Homo sapiens: one gene and its partner. The protein of the gene in region 2 interacts with the protein of the main gene of each other region in a pairwise test. Each region holds a gene or a part of one and is shown on either strand. Other genes may lie near its edges.

Region 1 (3,908 bases), on a different chromosome or scaffold from region 2:
TAGCGCAGCTTCGCGACCCGGGGGAAGGCTCCTTGGAGAGCCTCCTGGACTCCCTCGGGCTACGCCGAGGTACCGGGTTATTTCCCAACTGCAAGGACAATTAATTCACGGGCTGTTGATGAGATTCCTCCTGACAGGGCGGATTGTCGGGCTCCGCCAGGCTCTGGGACCGGGTCTCTGTCCGCCGCGCCCCAGGCCCGACCTCTCCGGGGGGTACCCCCCTTCGCGTCGCCGGAGCTGCCTCCAGCCTCGAGTCCGGGAAGACGGGAGAAGCGGCGGCGCTTTGGAGAATATTTACAGTTCCCAAACCCCCCACAGCCCGGGCTGGCCGAGTTCATCCACACGAAGGATAAATTCACTGCTGATCGCTTTATCTTTAATCGATAGAAGACCGGGGCCGCCGACAAGTCACGAATTTCCAATTCCAGGCCGTGGCCGGGATCGCCATTCACCGGCGGCGGCGGCGGCGGCGTCGCGCAGGGGCTGGAAGGACCCGGGCTCCAAGCGCGCAGGGCCGGGACCGGGGGCCGCGAGTTTCCGACGCGCATCGCAGACCCGCCGCGCACCCTCGCCCCCGCGTCCGCTCTCCACCTGCGAACCTACGCTGTCCGGGGGCTCCGCCTTCTCGCCGGCGCCCACCTCGCCCAGCTATCTCTCCTCCAGGCCCCTCCCCGGGTTCCCAGGTCCAGCCTGCTCCGAAGCCTCGGGCACCGCACACGCCGCGCGCTGAGGGAGGGCCGGGCGGGGAGAGGCGTCCAGTCCAGCCCAGCCCAGCCCAGCCCAGCCCAGCCCCACCTGGGCGCGCAGGCAGAGGAGCCCGCGTCCGCCGCCCCCCAGCCCTCCGCGCAGGGCTGTAATAATTACATCCTCATTATTTCTCCTGCAATCGTTAGCGAAGGAGCCGGAGACAGCAACAGCCGCTGCCGGGGGAGGCTTAGTTACAAAACCCTGCGCTGGGTAGCGCCTCGCTTAGCAACCACCCCTAAAAAAGACCCCGAGCTCCTCGCTCGCACTTGGAGAGCCGGGCGGCGGCCACCCCCTCGCTGCGCGCACCCTCCACTCCGCCTGGTCTCGGCAGCCGCTGCTGCCCGGCACAAGGGCCCCATCCTGGTCGCCCCCGCCCCCGCGAGCCCCCGTGCGCGCAGCCCAGCCCGGCACCCTTCATTCATTCCCAGTCCCCGTCGGCGTTTCCACCCGGGCTTGGGGGGAGGGGGATGCAGTCTGCTGCCCGCCGCCCCCACTCGCTCGCAGCTGCCCCACCGGAGCTAGGCGCGTAGCCCCTGGCGCGCCGGCACCCCCCAGGCTTTGCCCCCTCCACCCCGGGCAGGCAGAGCGGAGAATTTCACACCTCCGCGGCCCCGTGCGCTCCCGCACCCCCGGAGCCCAGGGTCCCGGCACCCCCGAGCGCGGCCAGGGATGCGCGGAGCCCGGCGAGGAGCGCAACGCGCGACCCCCGAGCACAGGCTGTCCCTGGGGTCCCCAGCGCTCCGGCCCCGGCGGGCGGCACGACCCCCGCTCGCCCCCGCCCCCAACCCTGACGCCCTCGGGGCGTCCCCGCGGGTCCGACACACCGCGCCCTCCCCGCCTCGACGGCTCTCGGAGCCCCGCGCCCGGCTCCCGGCAGCCCCCGGCGGCTCGCACCTTCCTCAGCGCGGACATCCTCGGACGCTCCGGGCTCAGCAGGTGCGGGGCGACATGGCGAAGCGGCCCCTCCTCAGACCGACGGCTCCCGGGGCTCGCGGGTTGGGGTCAGTACGTCCGTCCGCGGTCCGTCCGTCCGTTCGCCGCCGCAGGCGCCGCGCGCTCAGACCGCGCTCGAGCCCGGCGCACGGTCGGTCTTCACGGCCGGCGCCTGCGCACTCGGCGCCCAGGGAGGCACCGGCGCACTGGGGGGCGGCCGGCGCGCGGCTGCATCTGGGGAAGGGCCCGGCTTGGGGAGCGCGCGGGCAGCCCGGCTCCAACTGTTGCGCGGGGCGCGCGGGTCACCCGGGGACTGTGCCGGGCTCCCGGCGGGAAAGCAGCGGCCTCCACCGCGGCGCGCGCAGGCGACGCTCACCGCGCCCGAAAGTTAGCGGGGGACCCGGTCACACCCGTCGCCCCCGGGCAGGGTCAGCCTTTCTGGACCGCTGTTAGAGACGCGCCGGCGCGTTTGTGCGCGGGACTCGCGCTCGGGTTCGAGTCGGCTCGGCGCCCAGGGGGGCTCGCGGGGCAGAGGGGACGCGGGGCGAGGGAGGCGCGGGCGCTTGCGAGGGTCTCACTGCGAGGTGCGGCCGCCGCTTGGGTGCTGGAGGCAGAACCTCCCCCGGTTTCCACTGGCGGGCTACGCTGAGGAAGGTGTGCGGCGGCGGCTTCGCGGGGACCCACCGGGGGGCGCCCCGAGAACCTGGGTCCGGACGCAAGGAGCGCCCTCGGAGGGGGCCCGCCGCCTGGGTTTGCTGTGAGTGGCGTATGGACGACAGAGCCGAGGAAAAGGGAAAATCGATCCGGAGAAGTGGTGTTGACAACCACAGCAGCCGGGAAGATCAGCCACCCTGGCCACGTGTGGACGGACCCTCGCCAGGATCATGGGTTTTCCCTTCCGGGATCGGAACGCGGGAGCTAGACGCGCTGGTATGGGGATCCCTGGGCGGTCACCGACCCTGGGCAAGTCTCTCAGCCCCAGTTTAACATAAACGCAGAAATGGATTTCTGCTTTCCACCTGCATGGCTACGGCATTTAAATGAGGTAAAAGATGCGAAAACAAACCGCATAGAAAGACGGATGGGAGTTAGAATGAAATCAGGTCATCCAAAATATTTGGAATGGACAAACCAATCTTTTCCAGAAATTCCAAGATCTTTAAACAAAAAACAGGCTCTGTAAGAATTCCCCGTATAATTGATCACCAAAATATTCATCAGTTGCAGTTTATTTTCAAGGCAGAGTGCTAAACGACGAGGGGGTAGAAAGGTGAATGGGAGAAAGAAGTCCGGCCGCTGTCCATTTCTTCTAAATGTTTCCCGAATCTATCAGTGGTCTCCACTGTCAAAAAAAAAAAAAAAAAAGGTGCATTCAGCGCCCAAACCTCAACTAGGGAGAGATTCCAGGCCAATTTATTTTCATTTCACAATTTACTTTCCCTTTGCTTTCCTCCCCTGCATTTCGTCCCCATCCCTTCACGTTTTTTAAAAATATATATATATATTATTTCATGCAACCGCAACAAGAAAATCACACAAATGTACTGACGGCCTCTCCTGTGTTCTCAGCGTGTGAGCAGCACAGAAAACCACGGTTGCCGCCCCATGAAGCCTTCAGTCTAGAGAGGGATCCGCCCAGAAGTTACCCAAGGAACAGACAATTACAAGTTATAATTCTCTGAAGGAAACATATGGAGTGTTATTGGTGAATGTGAAAAGGGCAACAAATACAGTTTGTGACATCAGAAAAGAACTTTTTGAGGACGTCGTTATTAAATCTCCCCCTGGGTTCTCCCACAAGCAGGTTTTGAGGTGTGGATTTGGGTGCAGGTAGTTCATTTGGGAGATCGATCCCAGGAAACTAGAGAGAGGAAGTAGGGAGAGAGAGGCAGGGCAGGAGAGGACGTCCCAGAGGCTGCGGTGACGCTGGGCTGCTCCTGTGGCCACCGGGGCCCCGTCCTGCTGGGGTGCTCTAACAGGAGCAGCTTGGAGTGCACGTCAGCTTAGGAAGGCTGGACAGCTTTTCAGCTTCTAGGTCCCAGTGACTGAGGGCTGCTCCTCACCCACACACCCCACTCCCCAAGTTGAGCACCTCCCAAAGCTTCAAAGAAAGTCCAGAGGCCAACCAGCAGGGGAGTGCACGGGGACCTGAGAGCACATTGAGGGTGGCATCAGAGGTGGCCTCTGCCATGGCCCTGGGAACAGGATTTAGGGAGATAAGAGCAGGC
Region 2 (3,908 bases):
GTCCCACTCCCCTGTGGGCACCCCAGGAGCTGGCCCAGCCTGAAGACGAGTAGAGGGGATGAGCTGTCCAGCTGCCACTCAGGGAGAGGTCTCCATGGACGGGGTCCCTGGACTCCCCGAGTGGAGTGCTCAGGGGAGCACAGCTTGGTGCAGGATGCCCTGCTGACCTGAACAGTGGATTCCTTCCTCCAGCCCTAGAGCCATTCCCTTCCAGCTCCTTCCTTACTGCAGACATTGCTTACAAGGGGAAGTGAGAGTCAGGAAACCCCAGCCTGTGTCCCAGCTCTGCCTCCTGCTGGCTGTGTATGTGGACAAGCCACTTATCCTCTGAAAAATGGGTGTGACTCATACCTGCTCCCCAGTTGTCATAAAAATTACCCACCCATGAGAAAGTGTTTTGTAAAAATGTGAAACACTAAGATAAGGCCTCTTTAATTATTGCTTCCACATAGAGTAATGACGGAAGAGCCACATTAGTATGTAATGGGGAAGGGTTAAACTAGTCAGTTTTTCAGATTTTTGGCCCAGTGCAGTGACTCATGCCTGCAATCCCAGCACTTTGGGAGGCTGAGGTGAGTGGTTCGTTTGAGCCCAGGAGTTCGAGACCAGCCTGGGACACATGGTGAGACCTCATCTCTACCAAAAAAAAAAAAAAAAAAAAAAAAAATAGCTGGGTGTGGTGGCATGCGTCTATTGTCCTAGCTACTCAGGAGGCTAGGTGAGGTGTGAGGATTGCTTAAGCCCAGGAGGTCTAGGCTGCAAGGCTGCAATGAGCCGTGATCACGTCACAGCACTCCAGCCTGAGCGGCAAAGCAACACCCTTTCTCAAAATTCCTGGAGGCTGTTGAGTGTACTTGTAGGTGTATACGTACATAATTCTTAGACTTTCTCCTTGACTGGAGGCACTGTCTGAATGTCTGCAGTGTAACTGTGCTTCTCTATACCAATGCCAGCCTATCGATACTCCTTTAGAGTAATAGATGACATCCAAGTCATTTATTTACATCCACACTGAAAAATAACTGGGAAAATTGGGGCTCTCAGTCTGCATCTTGAGCCCCAGCTGTATGTGATGTCACTGATTAATGCACTGAGTGGCTTAAATCAAATGCCTGCCCAGCAGGGGTATGGAGAGAGGCTTCATTAGTCAAAATGATGAAACCCAAGATCAAATATCAGTGGGAGAGACTGAAGATGCTGCCACCTGGGGAACAGCAAAATGGTGCACACCACAGGGAAGGAGAACCAAGAACCATAAGCCATCACGGGAGCCAATGGGGCTCCCCAAAGCCACAGACTGCTGAGCCCTGATACGGTTTGGATCTGTGTTCCCACCCAAATCTCATATGTGAAATTGTAGTCTCCAGTGTTGGAGGAGGTGCCTGGTGGGAGGTGATCAGATCATGGTGGGGGAGTTCTCATGAACGGTTTAGCACCATCTTCCCTGGCTACTGTACATAGTGAGCTCTCATGAGATCAGGTTGTTTAAATAGACTGTGGTACCTCCCCCGACTCCCTCTTGCTCCCCCTTTGGTGATCACTGAAAGTTTCTTGAGGCTTCTCCAGAAGCCAAGCAGAAGCCAACATCATGCTTCCCATATAGCCTGCAGAACTCGAGCCAATTAAACCTCATTTTTTTATAAATTACCCAGTCTCAGCTATTTCTTTATAGCAGTGCAAGAATGATCAAATATAGGCTCCTTCCAGACAGCCTCAGATAGAGCCCTCTGGTTGCGTCTAGAAATGACTCCTGACTTATTCTACGTTCAGTTCCAATGGAAATAATGTAAACCCTGCACAATACTGTGAAGGGCTGACATGGACACAGCTAGAGGCTTCTGCCCCTGGGACAGGATGGGCTGGCAGGGAAGAATGTACTGCACTTAGAGTTCACCAGTACAGCCATGACCCTGTGCCTCCCAAGCCCGCAAACCTGGTAGTGATGGGAGGGGAAGAAGAACCCACACGTGTATTCAGACACCTGCACCCACCGCCCACCCACTCGCTGCCCTCTTGGGGCAGCTAGTCTCCTGCAACCAACTCGAAGCTTGGTTTGGGCTTTGGCGAGGCTCTAAACGGCCTTCTAGGTGGTCCTGGCAGAGATCTGGAGGGCACAGAAGAGAGAGTAGAGCTTCTCTTTGGAAGCCAAGGTGAGGAGGGCTTCCAGCAACCTCATTTCATTACAAGTCTTTATGAAGGAGTGCTGTGTCCCACCAGGATGGCTGTGATCATTACTCGGCTATCCCGGAGTCCAGGAGCATGAGAAAAAGAAGTGTTACTGCATTAACAGACGTGGCCCACACAGGCTTTACGAATTCCCCTCTTCGTGTCCGCTGGGGCTGCTACCCGAGGGCCTTTCCTGGTCAGCAGGGACAGTGCACGCAGAGCGGTGTGCATGTGCACCAACCGCGGACTTACCTTGGAGCGAGGCTGGCGGACTTGGCTCCCATTGGTGAATCCAGTCCTTCCCCCGGCTTTGCCAATTTCTCTCGGTTCATTTGCTGTAGGATAGAGTTCAATTCACTAATAACGTTTGCCTTTGGGCCTGAGAGAATCGGGCTTTTGATCTCTGTGACGTCGCCCCACAACTTGGAGGTCCTTGGCTGGAGAACCTTGGCCATCCCAGGCTGGGCACTGCCCGGCGGGGGCGGGGGAGCGGGCGGGGGGATAACAAAGCTATCTACATCTTCTTCCACGAGCGCGTCTTGATAAAGTGCATTGCTTTTGTGAATGATGGGCTTCATTTTTGGCTTAGGAGGTACTGGGGGTTTGTCAACCATAAATGCTTGCCCATCTGCATAGACTGTGCAGGTGTCCACATTCTCTCCACCTTCGGAAGACAGGGTGGAGATGCTAGACACGGTGGAGATAGTGCTGGTCGTCTCGAGGTGGTGGTCGCTGCTACTCCGGCTGTCCACCTCCTCGATCCCAGAGTCGGCGACGGCGTCAAAGCTTTCAGGGGGTGGCAGGAATGAGGCAGGCAGACAGTTTGAAAGACTGGCTGGCTTCTTGCTGTCTGCAGAGTTGGTTGGTTGGCTGGAGTTCAACGAAGGGGACTGAGGGGTGTCGCTTTTCTTCTGCTTCACTAAGTCTGAGAGAGCCGGGACAGAAGCTGCCCGGTCATCGGGGATATCAAAACTATTTGCAAATTCCAGGGGAGGAGGCAATGGCTCTGTAAAAATAAAATCCTCATCCAAGTCCACGGATGCCAGAGGGGGAGGAGGGATGCGGAATGGCAAAATCACCGCCTCTTCCATGGAGCCCACCGCGACGATGGTTCTGCCGGGCACGGTGGTGGGCTCGGGGGCAGCGGAGATCTGTAAAGCACCTTCGGTTTCGGAAACACCTTCTGGCACCTCGGACGGCGAGCTGTCTGGCTTCATCTCCACCTCTGCCTTCTCGTCCTCTTCCTGCAGGGCGTTGTCCAGCTTAGTGGCGTCCACGGTGTGCACCATCAGCAGGCCAGCCGACTTCTGCTGGGACGTGTCCATGATGTCGATCAGCATGTTCTTCTTGTCATCGCCTTTCCGGTCTCGGCCCAGGTCGGTCTCGTACTTGTTCTCCGTCTCCTGCCGCCTCAGGGGTCCCCGGGTGTTCTGCCTGGTGACCGTAGGGAAGCCGGCATCCAGGCTGGGCCGCATTTTGGTATCAATGTAAAGAGGTTTGTTGAGGTCGGCCTTGGGGGCCTCCCCTTTGGGTCCCTGTTGAGACTCCTTCATGGCTCGGTCCCTTGCGGAGAGTGCCAGGGCCAGCGGGGAGCTGGGATCAAGCAGCCGCCCTGTGAGTGGGTGGACATAATTCCCGGGGCCGGCTGTGCCGCTGCTCGCGGAGGGCACTGCTGGGCTGCTCTCGGGCCCCTGGGCTTTGGACGTGGAATTCAGCGGCCTCCCAGCCTCACCCGGAGCACT

The links.
Region 1: the proteins of SHANK2 (region 2) and DLGAP2 interact in a two-hybrid assay, tested with the Homo sapiens proteins (one study listed by BioGRID).

The regions. Positions count from the first base shown.
Region 1 is NC_000008.11:735,559-739,466, reverse strand, and holds the start of DLGAP2 (disks large-associated protein 2), read right to left. Parts: upstream 1,840-3,908; 5' UTR 1,660-1,839; coding exon 1,642-1,659; intron 920-1,641; exon of another isoform or gene 1-919.
Region 2 is NC_000011.10:70,482,896-70,486,803, forward strand, and holds part of SHANK2 (SH3 and multiple ankyrin repeat domains protein 2), read right to left. Parts: coding exon 2,419-3,908; intron 1-2,418. UniProt on the Homo sapiens protein: Seems to be an adapter protein in the postsynaptic density (PSD) of excitatory synapses that interconnects receptors of the postsynaptic membrane including NMDA-type and metabotropic glutamate receptors, and the actin-based cytoskeleton.